Linked DNA regions of Homo sapiens: all the other regions are reported to be linked to region 1. Evidence: microRNA targets listed by miRTarBase, many of them from high-throughput screens and not tested one by one. Region 1 holds a microRNA gene; each other region holds the end of a gene's coding sequence. Distances are between the middles of the regions.
The links. The annotated mature microRNA hsa-miR-4742-5p reads UCAGGCAAAGGGAUAUUUACAGA and lies in region 1 at 2,318-2,340, shown strand. An mRNA with a match to its seed (bases 2 to 7 or 8) in the 3' UTR can be bound and repressed. Matches are read on the target gene's strand: a 7mer-m8 pairs with bases 2 to 8, a 7mer-A1 pairs with bases 2 to 7 and ends in A, and an 8mer does both.

Region 2: miRTarBase lists MXRA7 as a target of hsa-miR-4742-5p. The part of its 3' UTR that is shown has no 7-base or 8-base seed match.
Region 3: the mRNA of IGSF8 is a reported target of hsa-miR-4742-5p. Seed matches in the 3' UTR shown: 7mer-m8 at 665-671.
Region 4: miRTarBase lists MORC2 as a target of hsa-miR-4742-5p. Seed matches in the 3' UTR shown: 7mer-A1 at 2,423-2,429.

The regions. Positions count from the first base shown.
Region 1 is chr1:224,396,629-224,400,628 of GRCh38, reverse strand. MIR4742 (microRNA 4742) reads left to right here and starts at 2,318; the gene lies at 2,318-2,402. WDR26 (WD repeat domain 26) reads left to right here. Exons shown (of 14, transcript NM_001379403.1): 10 at 1,595-1,740; 11 at 2,036-2,114; 12 at 2,403-2,532.
Region 2 is chr17:76,677,419-76,681,418 of GRCh38, reverse strand. MXRA7 (matrix remodeling associated 7) reads left to right here. Exons shown (of 4, transcript NM_198530.4): 4 at 540-1,853. The coding sequence ends at 552. Among named protein-coding and RNA genes, the nearest start is that of MXRA7, 32 kb to the left of the region's middle.
Region 3 is chr1:160,088,223-160,092,222 of GRCh38, reverse strand. IGSF8 (immunoglobulin superfamily member 8) reads left to right here. Exons shown (of 7, transcript NM_052868.6): 6 at 285-415; 7 at 615-880. The coding sequence ends at 400. KCNJ9 (potassium inwardly rectifying channel subfamily J member 9) reads right to left here. Exons shown (of 3, transcript NM_004983.3): 3 at 1,660-4,000. Among named protein-coding and RNA genes, the nearest start is that of IGSF8, 8.4 kb to the left of the region's middle.
Region 4 is chr22:30,923,446-30,927,445 of GRCh38, forward strand. It overlaps MORC2 (MORC family CW-type zinc finger 2), which reads right to left. Exons shown (of 26, transcript NM_001303256.3): 26 at 1,685-3,426. The coding sequence ends at 3,358. It overlaps MORC2-AS1 (MORC2 antisense RNA 1), which reads left to right. Exons shown (of 2, transcript NR_026920.1): 2 at 1,284-3,209. Among named protein-coding and RNA genes, the nearest start is that of MORC2-AS1, 3.1 kb to the left of the region's middle.

The DNA of each region.
Region 1 (4,000 bases):
GATTGCAGTGGGCCAAGATCGCGCCATTGCACTCCAGCCTGGGCAACAAGAGTGAAACTCTGTCTCAAAAAAATACATAAATAAAACAAAATATACTCTATGAACACCTACTTTGCTGTCGTCGTAGACAAGCGCTGTCCAATAGAATTTTCTGGGTCATTTTTTTCCTTTCTTTTAAACATTTCAAATGTTTGTACAAAGTATAGACTTTGGATTTAGTAGAACAAAAAAATGTGTTTTGCTAAACATTTTTGTTTTTATGAGCAAGTTTCTAATTTATAAGAATTGAAAAGATTTTTTAAATTTCTTTTGAGATTTTTGTAACCAAAAAAAAAAAACACTGAATTTTATGAGTAGACTCCCTTTAATATTTGAATAATAAAAGTGGTGACAGGTGCTACCAGAGTACTTTTCAATCTTTGTGTCAGCTTCTAATAAGTAGCTGCCCTAATTATTTTGAATTGTTGGAATGATAAAAATAAGTTTTATGGCAAGGTAAACTTTATATCATAAGTATCATTTATATCATAAATCATTGTTTACCTTGCCATAAAACTTTCTCTGTTACTTGCAGTGTAGTCTAGATTCTGTGTCTCATATTACAGACTCACATGGTCCCAGTATGCACGTCCACATTTTTTTTGTTGTTTTTTAAGAGACAGGGTCTTGCTCTCTGCCACCCATGCTAGAGTACATTGGTGTGATCATGGCTCACTGCAGCTTCAAACTTCTGGGCTCAAATGATCCTCCCGCCTTGGCCTCCCAACGTGCTGGGATTATAGGCATGAGCTACCACACCCGACCCCAGATCAATTTTTTAAACTAAAACAAGATAATAAATCATTTAATTTAGCTAAAACAGGTTATCAGTTTCTTTTATTAAGCTCGTTTGGAACACATGGATTTTGGTGTTATATTATCTCAATATGGTTATGAATTGTTCTTAATTCCCTGCGTGCAAGATGATCATGTATGTTTCTGCTGAGTTTGCTGTCCTATACTGTGTTAAGCCATCAAGATACAGGATTATCTAACTTATAAAATGGGAAGGGTTGTTCCTCTCAGAACTTTGGATATTCAATGAGATAATGACTATAAGAGCTTTGATCTGTAGAGCACATTACAAATTTGGTAAATTTTTGAAAAATGTCATTAACAGATTCCTCCAGTCTGTATGAAGCTGTAAAATGTTTTAGAATCTTTTTCCATTTCACAACTCCTAAATATTAGGACAAATTCCAGTATAGTGAATTTTAAAGGAACGTTTAAATTGTTTTTGAATAAAAGTAAGACCTTACTTGGAACTTAGGGACTGTTTCTTTCTTTGTGTTATTTATGCATGGTGAGTTATTGAAGGGAAGATAGAGCTACAAAGTGTCTCTCTGCTTTCCCTTAAGTATGGTTGTAATGAAATTTGAACTATATTCAAATTTTCATGGTTAAAAACACTTCTAGAACAATTAGGTTGAGATCAGTCTCAGGAAAAAAAAAAAACCTGTTACTAAAAGATATTGTGAAGGGAGTCTTTTGGTTCTTTATTTGCTTTCTGAGTGCTGTTGAGTAATGAAGTTAATAGTAGTTTTTTCTTACTCAGGACTTAGATGGTAATCTCCTTGACTCCTGGGAAGGGGTAAGAGTGCAATGCCTTTGGTGCTTGAGTGATGGAAAGACTGTTCTGGCATCAGATACACACCAGCGAATTCGGGGCTATAACTTCGAGGACCTTACAGATAGGAACATGTAACTATTTTTTGTTTCCATTAAACAACAATTACCTGATTTATATTCAAATGTGTAGTGGAACTTGCCTTTTCACAGTTTTTATGTTTTTCGTTTTGGTTTGCGTGGTAATTTGGATTGAAGGTCACATGGTACTTAGTAATCAGTAACTCAGATTCTTCTCAATTGAAGTATAGTATGTAATAGTGATTGCAGGCAAAATTGTCATACTTAAGCTAGCACATCTTATGTATTGATAATTTGAATGTCTTGACTGTTAATATGTTGTTTTTGACAAATTATTTTCTGGTTCCAGAGTACAAGAAGATCATCCTATTATGTCTTTTACTATTTCAAAAAATGGCCGATTAGCTTTGTTAAATGTAGCAACTCAGGTATGTTTATTAGTATAATTTTCTGAAAAATTTGGCTTAGTACAAGTTTTATTTTAACTGTTATTTTCAGTGTATTTATATTAACAAAATTTTCTACTTACCCTTAAATTTGATTGCATGTGATTGATCCTTAAATGTGTATAATCAACCATAAATTTGTCAGAATGTTGGTATTTTGCATAATAGAAAATGAAGATATTTCATCAGGCAAAGGGATATTTACAGATACTTTTTAAAATTTGTTTGAGTTGAGGCAGATTAAATATCTGTATTCTCCTTTGCCTGCAGGGAGTTCATTTATGGGACTTGCAAGACAGAGTTTTAGTAAGAAAGTATCAAGGTGTTACACAAGGGTTTTATACAATTCATTCATGTTTTGGAGGCCATAATGAAGACTTCATCGCTAGTGGCAGTGAAGGTAAATTGTGTCCTTATCAGTTTACATATGTTGATATTAAAGTCTGTAAATCTCAATTTATGAAGGCAGTCATGTCTCCAAGAAAATTCAGGGTAGTAAGTTAAAATTCTTTCATTTATCCAATACACGGTTAATTTCTCTCTGTAATGACCTAAGCCCCTGTATTATCACAAATTGTCACATGCTGTCATGTATTACTTTCTCCTTTTCTGTAATGACCTAAGCCCTCCATATTGTCATGTATTGTCACGGATTAGCAGTGCTTATTCTGACCACGTAGCAGTGTGTTTGGTGCATGTGTCTAATCAAGATTTAGTTAAATTATTATACTTTCATATGTTGACTTGTATTTTCATGGGACTGATGGTTTTTAAGGGTTGGTAGTATCTGAAAAATCAAGGTTAATTATGATGCTCTACCTGAACTTGGACAGATTTGACTATAGTTAGTTCTTCAGTATTTCTTCAGCGGTCACCAGAGTTATAATTGAGTTTGATAATTCTTAAGATTTTAGGAAAGCTGAAATTATTCTTCCTACTACTACCCTTTTGAATAAACTTGTTCTCTAATCTAAAAGTGTCAGTATTCCAGACAGGAATATGCCTAAAGTCACTCTAAAGTGTGAATTGTTTAGAAGATGCAAGCACAAATAAGTGAGGCAGTAATAAAAATTAGTGTACTTTTTAAGGCGATAGGAACTTAACTAGTGGCAAATTATTGCAAGTTTTTATTCAACACATTTTTCTTCAATACCCACTGTACATTTCTAGGTACTATAAAAGCAAATTATTTAAGTCACTTTTTTTGGCCGGGCATGATGGCTTACACCTGTAATCTCAACACTCTGGGAGGCCTAGATGGGAGTACTGCTTGAGGCCACGAGTTCCAGACCAACCTGGGCAACATGGCTAGACACTGTCTCTACAAAAAGTAAAAAAATATATACTGAATCTGGTTTTATAAGATAGACCAAGGAATTAGATTATGTTATGTTCCATTTATTGTATAAGATGTTTACTATCCCTATCTTGACAAAAAACTGATCTTGGTAGATAAGAGGATCATAAAGTGCACATGAGGTTTACCTTTAAGAATAAGGCATATTTAAGGATTGGGACAAAGAGAGACATTTAGAGATTTAGATTTTAACATCAAGCATATAAATTCATCTATTCCTTTTCTTTTCTTTTCTTTTCTTTTCTTTTTTTGAGTGCAATGGCACGATCTTGATGCAACCTCCACCTCCTGGGCTCAAGCAGTCCTTCCCTCCTCAGCCCCTCAAGTAGCCCCAACAAATTTTTGTAGAGATGGGGTTTCACCGCGTTACCCAGGCTGGTCTTGAATTCCTGAGCTCAAGCAGTCTACCTGCCTCAGCCTCCTGAAGTGCTGGGATTACAGGCATGAGCCACCGCGCCCAGCCTGAATTCATCAATTCTTTCTTTCTACCGAAAATCAGCGTCAGATGAGA
Region 2 (4,000 bases), not on the chromosome of region 1:
AGAGGGCGTCAGAGGGACAAGATCAGACCTGCTGGGTTCTCAGTGGTCCCAGGGCTGGCAGTGTGTCTTGGTTCATAAAAGACGGGCATGCAGTTGGCTCCATCTGGAAGCGTGCATCCTAGGGTGCCAGTATCCCCCGAGGGGACAAAACTCAGCCAGCGGGAATGGGAAATTATCTAGGGTGATAGGAATATTGTCAGCACAACCACACAACCCAAGATCAGAAAGGCCCTTGGCAACTCAAATGCCCAAGTTCCTTCCTTAAGTACCCTGCAGAGGCTGAACAGGGTCTGTGGGCTGCCAGGTTCTGTGCGGGATCAAGGGGAGCTCTGCAAGCTCTGGCCGGCTTGGCGGCACAGACTGTCTTGCTGCAAGCGATGAGAAGCAAATCAGCAGTGGTTTGAGAAACCAGAGTCTAGCGCAGCTTCTGCAATTCCAAACATTCTCCTTCCTCGTCCCCATTTCCCCCTTTCCTTGCCCATGGTGCAGGATGGAATGAGTAAAATAAATTATCTTTTTCTCCCCATTTCTCTTTACAGAACTGAAGAATAACGAAGTTATCCTTAGCGTCCTCCTAAAGGCTTTTCCTTTTGGCATCTTAAAAGCTTGAGAGATAAAACGGAAACCCCAGAGAGGAGTCTGGGCAGGCTCCCAGGGTGCATGCTGCCTCCATAAATCTGCTGAGCTCTAGACCCTCAATCAGGACTTGTCCCTTGGCTAGCAGGATCCTGGGAACACCTTTGGCCCTGCCCTGTGTAGAGATGTTCATGTCTGTTCCTGTGGGTCACTTTGTTAAGCTGAAGAGTTTTAAGAGGTAGAGCTCAGACCCTGGACTGGGATTTTTCTTACCACTCAAACTTGCTATCCACACACCCTGCACACCTTAGATAAAAAGAACATTTTAAAAGCAGAGTTCACTTTCACTCCAGTCTCCCCTCTTTTGCCCTCACTGAAGCCAAACCACAGAAGACTTTGAGGAATGAGAGACAAATGAGGTAGAGCTCACCTGTGCTCACCAGCTCCGTCAGGGTGGTCAGCCGACCCCTTTCCCTGGGAACCCCACTTCTCTCTGTGGCTGGCTTGGTTGTCGGGGGTGAGATGCCATATTGATTACAGGGCAGCAAAGAACCAGTACCAGGAATTTACTTGACCATTCCCCTTATTTTTCATCTAGAGGAATCTCGGATTCAGCCCTTTCATTGCTAAGACACCTTTTCACTGAGGTTCTTACCAGCTCAGCCAAATCTCCACTCTGCTATAGCAGAAGCAATAATGTTTGCTTTAAAAAGATTTCTTGACCTATGCCTTTTCTTAGAAAGTTTGATAGATTAGTTAGAACTTCAGATCATCAGATCAGTCTCAAATGGGTTTCTTGGAATTTTATATTTGACAATATTTATACTATACCAAACTCATTTGCAGTTCTTAGGTTTGTTGGTTAAAACATTTTTTTAAAGCAGTAAGTTTATAGAAAATGTTTTCATTTAATGGAAGGCTGGGGAATGTCCAGCATCAACCCCTATGGCATGCATTCCCAGGGGCCTTCTCATCTGGGCCTGGAACCTTTGGTTCAGGGCTTAGGGGAGAACAGGCCACATGGCAACAGCCACACAGTCATTGCCTTCAACACAGAGCCACGTGTCCCCAAACAGCAATAGTCATGCCCTTGTCCAGGCTGGGATCTAATTGACACAATAGGTCGTTGACTCCCTCCTAGTAGAGCTATCTAGGTTTGTCTGGAAAGTTTCCGACCCTGGCTTATAGGCACCACACCTCATGTACTCCTCATGGCTTGGATCTCTGTATTCAGCCTTTGTTCAGTCCAATAAACTTTGAGTAGATGATCTCAATTACTGTGTGTTTTTTCAGTTTGCTTTGTTTTAAAACAAAATCCCTTTTGAACCCATTGAAGTTTGACCTTTCTTTCATTTTGATGCCTCTTACTCTGCAGCAGAGTACAAAGCCATACATCCACCCTGTTAAAAAATATGCAGTCACCATGGCTGTCAAAACCACATGACATGATCTGTGTTCACTCAGGGACATATGGATTGTGCTTCCATCCACAGAGCTCAGCACATCCTTTCTGTTCACGGGAATTCCTCTTCTTCTTCTTTTTTTTTTTTTTTTTGAGACAGGGCCTCCCTCTGTTGCCCAAGCTGGAGTGCAGTGGTGCAATCACAGCTCACTGTGGCCTGGACCTCGTGGGCTTAAGTGATCCTCCCGTCTCAGCCTCCCAGGTAGCTGGGACTACAGGTGCTCACCACCACACCTGGCTAATTGTTTTATAGAGACAGAGTCTGACTATGTTGCTCAGGCTGGTCTTGAACTCCTGGGCTCAAGTGATCTTCCCATCTTGGCCTCCTAAAGTTCTAGGATTACAGGCATGAGCCACTGCACCTGACCCTCTTTCTTCTTACAGGAGGGCACAAAGCACACATCATAGGCTGCTGCTTCACCAGACAGGGGAACCGACTGTAGACACAGCTTTCCCAGGGGACAAGGGAGGCTGGGAAGTGGGACTTCAGTATTTCAACTACTAGATGCTGCTCTAGACAGAAAATTTTGCAGGATGGAAGATGCGGGGCTGAGGAGAGGAGGGAAGGGTGAAGCAAAGGAATATGGTAGCAAAAGTATGGGAGCGAACGTGGAGACCACCCCTCCAGGCAGTGTGGGGGATGCCAGTGGCCCAGGGCTATGCTGAGGTCCTGCGGTTGCAGAGCCTGTAACGTGCTTACAGCCGACCCAGCTGCAGAGCAGGGCTGAGAGGTCCGACACTGTGATGTGGTTTACGTTCTCTGAAGGCACTGAGCCCGTGGTGTGTGGGGGGCAGGAACTGCAGAAACCAGAAGAGTGAGATGCAGCCAGGATGCAGTGCCCGGCTGGGCTGAGGAGCACAGGGCACCAGAGTGGAGCAAACAACAAACATATGGCTCCCTGGGTTCGGCAGCCGCCTCGCCCCACCTGAGGTGTTTGTGCTGCAGAAGTTGTCCTGTGCTGGTCAGATGGTGTAGCTGAGCCTCATAAAGATAACAAGACATTGCTCCCAGCACAGAACCCGCGTGGAGCAAACATTTAGGCCAGTCTTCCTCCACACCCATCCCTTGATAAAAGGGGCAGGGCCGCCACCTGCCATAGGGTATCTTGTGCAAATTAGGAAAAGGCACCCCCCTTTCTCTGGCCAGTGAAACCCCACAGGCTTCCCTCCCCGCTCCTTTGCCAAGCACCGTCTTGCACACACTTGTATGCTCCCTGATTTCCCAGCTGATAATGTTTTTTCTTTCTCCACTTTCGGCTCATTCCTCTCAACGAAGGCTGTTTCTAACCTACTTCTTCATAGCACTACCTCAAGCTGCTTCATGGAGCCTATCTTCTTCCTCATTACATCACTGTGGGACATGCAGTCAACAATCAAATGAGGCCCAAAGGGAAACTGAGGCACAGAGCACCTAAGTGATACCTGGGGTCCCCAAACCTCCCCGGCAAACCTGAGATTTCGCATCCCAGTTTTTAGAGCCCTCAAAAGTTGCGTGTGTCAGACCCAACCAGCTCCGATGTTCTAAGTGGGTTTTATTTTCATTTTCTTCTTGTTCTGAAAAGCAACCGCAGTCACACAAGAGAGAGGAGAGTCCCAACTCCGCCGGCTGCACACAGGCTCCCTCTCTCCCCAGTGGGCTAGGAGCACCTTCTTCCTCTTTGTCCTTTCTTCTCGACAGAGTTCAGAAGGAACAGCTGGCTGCCATCTTCAAGCTCATGAAAGACAACAAGGAGACGTTTGGCGAGATGTCCGACGGCGACGTGCAGGAGCAGCTCCGGCTCTACGACATGTAGACTGCGCCCACGGGATGCACAGCGGCCATGCCTGATGCTGTCCCCACCCTTGCCCCATGCCCTTGTTCTTTCCAGACTTCTGTAGGCCTAATTTTCCCTTATAAACATAGATGCAGGCGTACATTCTATAGGTACTTGCCGAGTTCTTGCAGTGTGTATATTACTTTGC
Region 3 (4,000 bases), 64 Mb from region 1:
CTTCCCTTCCCATCTTCTGACCCTCCTGCTACTATCTCTCTCCTCCACATTATGTCACATGAAGTCTCAAAAAATCCAACTTCCAGCCCTGCAGTGCCCACCTGCACGGGGTCCTCTGTGGTTGATGCTGACTTGCATGCTGAGGGGGCAGGCTGTGGGCAGGGATGGGGGTGTCTGTGAATGGAGAAGGTGGGTTCAGAGAACTTGATGGGGAAAGCGCAGAGGCAAGTGTATGGGTGGAGGATGATGGCATCCTCTCTGAACAGTCATCCTCTCTCCCCCAGCCCTGGACACCCTATTTGTGCCTCTGCTGGTGGGTACAGGGGTGGCCCTAGTCACTGGTGCCACTGTCCTTGGTACCATCACTTGCTGCTTCATGAAGAGGCTTCGAAAACGGTGATCCCTTACTCCCCAGGTGAGGGAAAAGAACCCCCCAACCTTGTTTTCATTGGGCTTCCCACCCCCAAGTCCTGAACCAAGCTGCTCCCTCCCAGGCCCCACCTGGAGGAGGAGTAGGCAGCTCAGATCCACAGGGCCCTGTTAAGGGGTGGAGGCCGCGAGGGAGCCCCACTCAGGGCTCTCTGTCCTTAGCCCACACCGGGCACCCTTTTCAGGTCTTGCAGGTGTCGACTGTCTTCCGGCCCAGCTCCAAGCCCTCCTCTGGTTGCCTGGACACCCTCTCCCTCTGTCCACTCTTCCTTTAATTTATTTGACCTCCCACTACCCAGAATGGGAGACGTGCCTCCCCTTCCCCACTCCTTCCCTCCCAAGCCCCTCCCTCTGGCCTTCTGTTCTTGATCTCTTAGGGATCCTATAGGGAGGCCATTTCCTGTCCTGGAATTAGTTTTTCTAAAATGTGAATAAACTTGTTTTATAAAAAGCAGGCTTGGCTGTGTCTTCCCTACCATGAGACTGTAAAACGCTCAGGGTGCATAGTAGGGAGGTGGTTGGGGATTGACAACCTATTCTGGATGACCCAGGCCTCTCTTCCCACCACAAACACCATCTGGCCTCCATGGGCCATGCCACCCACCCCAGGAGGGGACACCTGGGTTCCATCTGCAGCCTGAACTGTCGGGGCTGAGACAACTCCTGATTGGACTCCTACTTGGGGAGGGAAGCATAGAAAAGGAGGGTAGGTTCCAGCTGCCTGTGGTCACCCCCGCACCAGCTTCTCCCATGTTAAAGGGCATGGGCCTCCAGGGGCAGTGCCTTTTCTGAGCTTCCCAGACTTTCCCCAACTCTTCCCACGTCTCATTCTCCTGGTCAGGCTAGTCTTGGACCTGACTCCTCCCACTAGGCCCTGGGGCTGAAATTGTTGTTCCTTCTGACCCATAGCAGCAGAATAGAAGCCTCAGAACACAACTGATACTCAGGCTGGGACAACAGGCAGTCAGGGGAGGGCCTGTGTGTCCACAGAGCCATTGCACCCACATGTACTCGCTGTACCTGCATATACCCTCTACCCGCATATACCCACTACACCTGCATATACCCGCTTCACCTGCCTGTACCTACCCTGGGGTCTCCTCCCTCCCACCCTTCAGCTTCACCCCTCCTCCAGTGCCCCAGGAGTTTCATGAATTTTCTTGCCTAAGGATTCTCTGATCCTAAAATTCTTACCTGCACGGCACCTTAAGAGGCATCTGGCAGGCCTCCTTCAGTTGTTATTTAAACATTTATTGAGCATTACGAGTTTGCTGTCATTTTTACAGATGAGGAAACTGAGGCCCAGATATGCGATTTGCCCAGAGTCATAGAGCTAATTAGCAAGTGTCAGGAGTAGGACCTAGGTCTCCTGACTTGTTGCACTGTACAGTGGTGCCCTGAGTGGTGACAGTGGCGAGGAGAGGTGTGGCAGGGTCTCAGTGACTTCAGCAGGCAGGAGGGGCCTTTCCAGACTGAGTTTCTCTGCTTGTTCAGCTGCAATGGGTTGGCTCCTGTGTGAGTGCGTGTGTGTGGATACCAAGTAGCCCACCCGCTCTTGTCCAGACCCCCCTGTTTTACTGAAACCCAAATGAATCCCCATTCTCCATCCCAACATCTGTTCTTAGGGGACCAGTCAATGCCAGGCTTCAGGAATCTCATCTTTGATGACAGGGCCCCAGTGGCCCTGTGACCTGAGGCAAAGATATCCGTGTTTTGACTGAAAGGAAGGGACTGGGACTTGGGTCCTCTCTGAGTGAACCCCAGCTGTCTGGGCTGCTTCCATGGCCCCCTTTCTTGCTTCCAGAGGACCCATAGGGCCCTGGCTATGCCCATAGGACCCTGGCTGTGCCCCATAGGACCCTATCTGCCCAGCCTGGAACAGAGAAGACTGGAGTGCTTTCCCCAGGGGGCTTATGAAAGGGCAGGAGTGGGATGTGGCCAGGGCCAAGGGAGGAGGTCCTTGCTGGGCCAGTGCTGCTGTGTGGGAGACAGGCGCTGTCCCAGGGCAGGCTCTCCTGGGCCTATGCTTTTCTCCAGGCCAGCTTCAGGTCCCTTCCACCCCTCTGCCTCTCTCAACTTGCAGTTGTTCTCCCTCACTATCCAGGAAGCTGCCGCTGGTGACTGGGATGTGATCAGGAAGCAGGTGGAGGTGGGGTGAGAATATGCGTCTTTGGGACCCCCTGGCCCAATTGGGCTGACAGCAGGCTGCAGACACATCCAGATGTTCTAACTCCTATCGCTTCTCTCCGATTTTCTCCCACATTCAATCTTGCCTCCAGTCCTACAAGGGGTTCTGTCCTTTGCCCCTAAAACTCTTCCTGCTCCACCTCCCCCCGACCTCCCCAGGAGCCCCCTCAAGTCCTTCTGATGGCTTCATCTCTCTGTCGGGCCTGCTCAGCTTCCAGACACCCCCTCCACTTGTCACTGCCCTGTTTCCATTGATGGTTGAGTTTCTGGGCCCAAAGTTAAACTCTTCAGCCTGGGCTTCGGGTCCCTTTCCCACACATAAAACCCCACCCTTCACATTTCTCTGTCTGCTCCTGTGAGGATCCTCAGCTTCTTCTCAGCTTCTCTTCATCTTCCTCTCAGCTACTCCTCAGTTTCTATGCCCCATGTCCTGAAACGACTTCCAAGTATTCACTTAGAGCACAGGTTCTCAAAGTGTGGTCCTCAGTCCAGCAACAGCAGCATGACCTGGGGACTTCTTAGGAATGCATGGTTTTGGTCCCCACCTCTTGGGTCAGAAACCCTTGGAGTGGAGCCCAAAAATCTGTGTTTTACCAAGCCCTCCAGGTGATTCCAACGCACACTGGAGATTTCTAACTCCTGACTTACATATTCCCTATGCCTTACACTGGCCCCAGCCTTCTGATCACCCACACTCCCCTACCCTCCACGGGACTGCACAGGTTGTCAGTTTGAATTATCCCTCGTTCAGTCACCACAGGTAGATTCCTCTGTTTTCCCAGGTGCCCCTTATTTTGAGGACAGGAACCAGGTTTTTGAATGTCCACTCCACATGGCACCCAATCAGTGATGTGAATGACTGTGCCCCAAGGACACACTGCTTTCCTAGGGGCTCCCTGTTTCCCAGCTCTAGTGAACCCACTTTCTAGATCTCTCTCCTGGCCCTTCCTCCCCAGAACCTCTCTCTCTCTCTTCCTGCCTGTGCCTGATACCTGTAAGATCTCACTCCACTGTAAGAAAATAGCTATCCCTGGTTTTCCTTTCCCAGGCCCCTCTCCAGGCCCCAGCTCAGGCACCTCCCCGCTCTGCCTGCTTCCCTGAACTTGCGGACTAAGGTCATTCACACCTTGCTGAGCCCCTTGCACGCCTTCATCCTGGTGAGGGTGGAGCTAGGAGGGCACCCTCCTCATGTGCCCATCTTGGTCCGGCTCCTTTCTCCTTCACTTCAGCTTGGCCTACCGTGTCATTAGACAGTTGTGCCATATGTGGGGAGGCTGGCAGAAGAGGTGACTGGGGACTGCAATCCATCCTATACTCTGCTCCCCAAGCCATGCACCCTGGTTTGGGGCTGTATCTGTCTGGAGGAAAAGGGTTCCTTTTTAAA
Region 4 (4,000 bases), not on the chromosome of region 1:
TAGCAGGTAGGGGCCAGTGAATCTTGGAAGCAAAGATTTGGGGGTCAAGAACAGCAGGGAGCTCTGGGCCCCCATCCTAGCTTCAACCAGAGCAGCTCCAGGACTCCTGGCTTTCCATATGGGCTTCTGGATAAATTTTAGGTACTCCTGAGGCTGAATAAGCTGGAAAGCCTCTGCCATCACCCAACTCCGTTATTTTAGAGGAGGAACAGGAGCCAAAATGGGCAGTGACTTGTCTGAGGCCTTGCCAGCTTGAAGAAGGAAATGTCCGCTGAACCCAACAGTGGCCCTGGTAAGGCCTGGTGCATTGCAAGTTACCGGATGAAAATGGTGACTGGCCGGGTGCAGTGGCTCATGCCTGTAATCCCAGCCAAGGCGGGCAAATCACTTGAGATCAGGAGTTTGAGACCAGCCTGGCCAACATGGTGAAACCCTGTCTTTACCAAAAAATACAAAAATTAGCTGGGCATGGTGGCACGCACCTGTAGTCCCAGCTACTTGGGAGGCTGAGAGGGGAGAATCGCTGGAACCCAGGAGGTGAAGGTTGCAATGAGCCGAGACTGTGCCACTGCACTCCAGCCTGGGTGACAGAGCAAGAGTCCGTCACAAAACAAACAAAAACAGAAACAACCCCAAATGTCCGTAAGTAGGAGACAATATATCCAACACATGAAATGCTCTGTGGTTCATGAGAATAAAGAAGACCCATATGGGTTATTCTGAAGCAGGTTCCACTACACTAAGCTGCACTAAGTAGTTTTAACAGGCAGAAATGGAACAGAGTGGAAGTGCGTGCACTTAGGAGGGATACTCTCCAGGGAGAATTCAGGGATTGGGTGGGAGAAGGGAGCCTTGCTTTTCATGGTCCAGCCTTTTAGACGGTTTTAATGTTTACCATGTGCATGTTTCACTTAAAAACCAAACACCCTAGGTGAGGCATGGTGGCTCACACTGTAATCCCAGCACTCTGGGAGGCCGAGGCAGGTGGATCACTTGAGCTCAGGAGTTTGAGACCATCCTAAGCAACATGACGAAACTCTACCAAAAATACAAAAAAAATTCGCCAGGCATGATGGTGTGTGCCTGTGGTTCCAGCTACCTGGGAGGCTAAGGTGGGAGATCACTTGAGCCTGGAAGGCAGATGTATCAGTGAGCCAAGATCGTGCCACTGCACTCCAGCCTAGGTGACCAGGGCGAGACCCCCATCTCAAACAAAACACCCTAGAGTCCCCACCCCTCTCGTTCTTTAAACACCAGCATTGCTGCCCTTCACTTTCTTGCAGCCTTGTGCAAAGGACCTTCTCACCACAGATCAGCCAGACCATCTTCCTCCTTCCAAGTCATCAAAGAGTTCCAAGCTGGTCACCTGTCCCTTGATGTTCCCAGGAAACCAGGAAAGAGGACCCCTGCATTTTATCTTCCCATCCAGAGTGGCAGGATCTCTGCCTGGGAAACAGGCTTCATTCAGCACAGCTGTGGTAGCATTAACAAAGCAAAGTGGGCACATGTAGAAGTTGAAGCTAAAACATTCAAGAACTCCAGTCTGTTTCTGTGGATGTTAAGGGGGTGAAGATAAAACAATGGAGGTGATGAGGAGGAATAACTTGAAGACAGTTTAAAGCCACAGTGATACAAAGAATGAAGAGAAGGAAGGTGCTGGATTTTACTAAGAAAACAGACTGAGTTCAGGAGTCTCACCAGTAGAACTTTATAGTATTGCGTTTCGATTACATGTGTGTGAATTTTAAAAACTGATTACCCTCCAGTAAAAATGTGGAACCAATTTGCATTTGGATTAAAACATTAGGTTTGGGGACAAAAGTGGACCCCATGCTGCCTGAGATGAAGAGAGAGAGCAGGATGGCAGAGGAATCACCAGCTCAAGAAACCCCAAGACTTGGACAGTCTTCCAGCAGAAGAGGCCAGGGTCTCTCAGTGTACTACTCCAAACAGGCCTCTCCTAGAGATGTAGTCTGGGAAGGTCCAAAACCCACCAGACAGGCACATCCAGTGGGGAAAAGACTTCCCATTCCAGTGTGGCCTGCATCCCTCACCTCTGCTTCCCAGTCTTCTGCTGACCTCAGAGGAGCAGGGTGGCCATTGCTGATCTGGGTTAGGGAGATGCCAGAAACACACCCAGGTTTGAACCACAGGTTAGTGGTACAAAGTCACAGTCCTTGTGCCTTCAGAAAACCCAGAGGCCCCAAATACGAGTGGGAAGAGAGTTGGGAAAAACTGAACCAGACTCTTCCAATGGCCATTAAAGAGAAAATTCAGCAACGCTTGCCTTTGTCTTTGACCCTGAGAAGTTAAGGGACACAGATTGTGGCGCCGTGATGGAACATGGAGGGAAGGCATGGTGTGCTTCCTGCAGAGATGCCTCTGGAGTCCCTGTGGCCACGGGATCTCACTGGCCCCCTCTTCAGGCACCTTGATGGGGCTCAGTGGGGCCAGGCCGAAGGGTGGAAGTAGAAAAGCATCAACAGGCTGTCCAGATCAATTGGCACCATCCAAGGCCCTGCTGCACCCACACATGGAGGTCACCAGCTCAGCCCCAGGGGTTCTTTCACACACAAGCTCCTTCCCTAAGGAGTCCTGTGGGGTTCCACACTCAGTGTGCTGCCCAAGTCAGAGATTTACCACAGATCTGTCTCCCCCTCAACCTGGACTCAAGTTACTGTGGTGAGAAACCTCACTGTCCATGGTTAACTGAAGAAATCCCTCCTTCAGAAAGAACTTGAGTAGTAGATGAGGTGGTTAGACAGGATCTTTTTCCCTCAAGCTGTTTGGACGCCACAGCCAGGACCAACTCTGACAGCTGCGAGAGAGAGAGCCCCTCCAATGTGGAACCTCCTACACAGCCCCCCTTTTGGGTCCCTGGATATGAGCCCCCAGCAGGACCACCACTCTAGGGGGAAGTCTCCCTCCCATCCCTCAGATCCCCACATTGTTCCTCCTGTAGGAGAAAAGTCAGCCCTGCCCCTGGAGCTTCTCCAAGATGGCACTGGACTCGCCGTTATCTTGAGGAGCCAGGAGCTGAAATGGCTCCGGCTTAGCAACCCAGTATGGCCAAAGTGGAAAGGTTCTCTGTCCTTTGCAGTCACCAAAAAAAAAAAAAAAAAAAAAAAAAAAAAAAAAAAAGTATGGTCTCACAGGCACAGCATCTTCTTTTAAAAAATAAATATTTATAAACTTAAGGAAGATTCAAAGAATCAGGGTATCTTTTCCTCCAAAAACACAAATGTCCCGTGTAAGTCAAACCAAGGTGCGACCACCAACCCATGAATGAAGTCCCCTCCCCCTGCAGCTACAGGGTTGAGGGGCAGGTGGGCAGGGGAGCTGCTCTCTCTCCTGCCTTCAGTCCCCCTTGGTGATGAGGTCCTCAATGTAGGCGTCCAGCTCATCATCTGTGTTGATGTCTATGTCCTGGAATAGAGCAGGGTAGGGATCAACTGGGGGCCAGAAAGTGATTGGGGGGCTCACCTTTCCACCCTTCTCTCAGCTCCTGGGATGGAGCCCAGAGTCCTCTCCCTGACCTCCCACCCCGCCCTGGATGTCAGGCTTCTGTCCTGTCTTAATCACTCTCCCCTCCCTCATCTATTGTGCACAGATGATGCCCAGATTTCCTACGCCCACCCTGCCTCTACCCCATGTTCCCAATTGTCTTAGATGTATATTTCCCTCAGATACTACAAATATGCCCACTTCTCTCCCTTCTCTGTCACTGCCCAAGGTCCAGGCCACCACTGTCTCAGACAACTGTGGGAGCCTCCTCACAGGAGGCTCTGGTTCTAACTTTGACCCCTCCAGGCCTCCTCCAACCAAGCAGGTACATGTCTGAGACTGAAAACTGCATCATGCCACACCCCTCCAGTGATCTCCACTGTTCTCGGGATCAAACCCCACAACTTTCAAGCCCTGCCTCTGCCCCTACCGCCCCCAAGTCCCTGCTCAGGCCTCAAGTCCTGCTCTTCTTCCTTCTGCCTGGAATGCTCGTGTC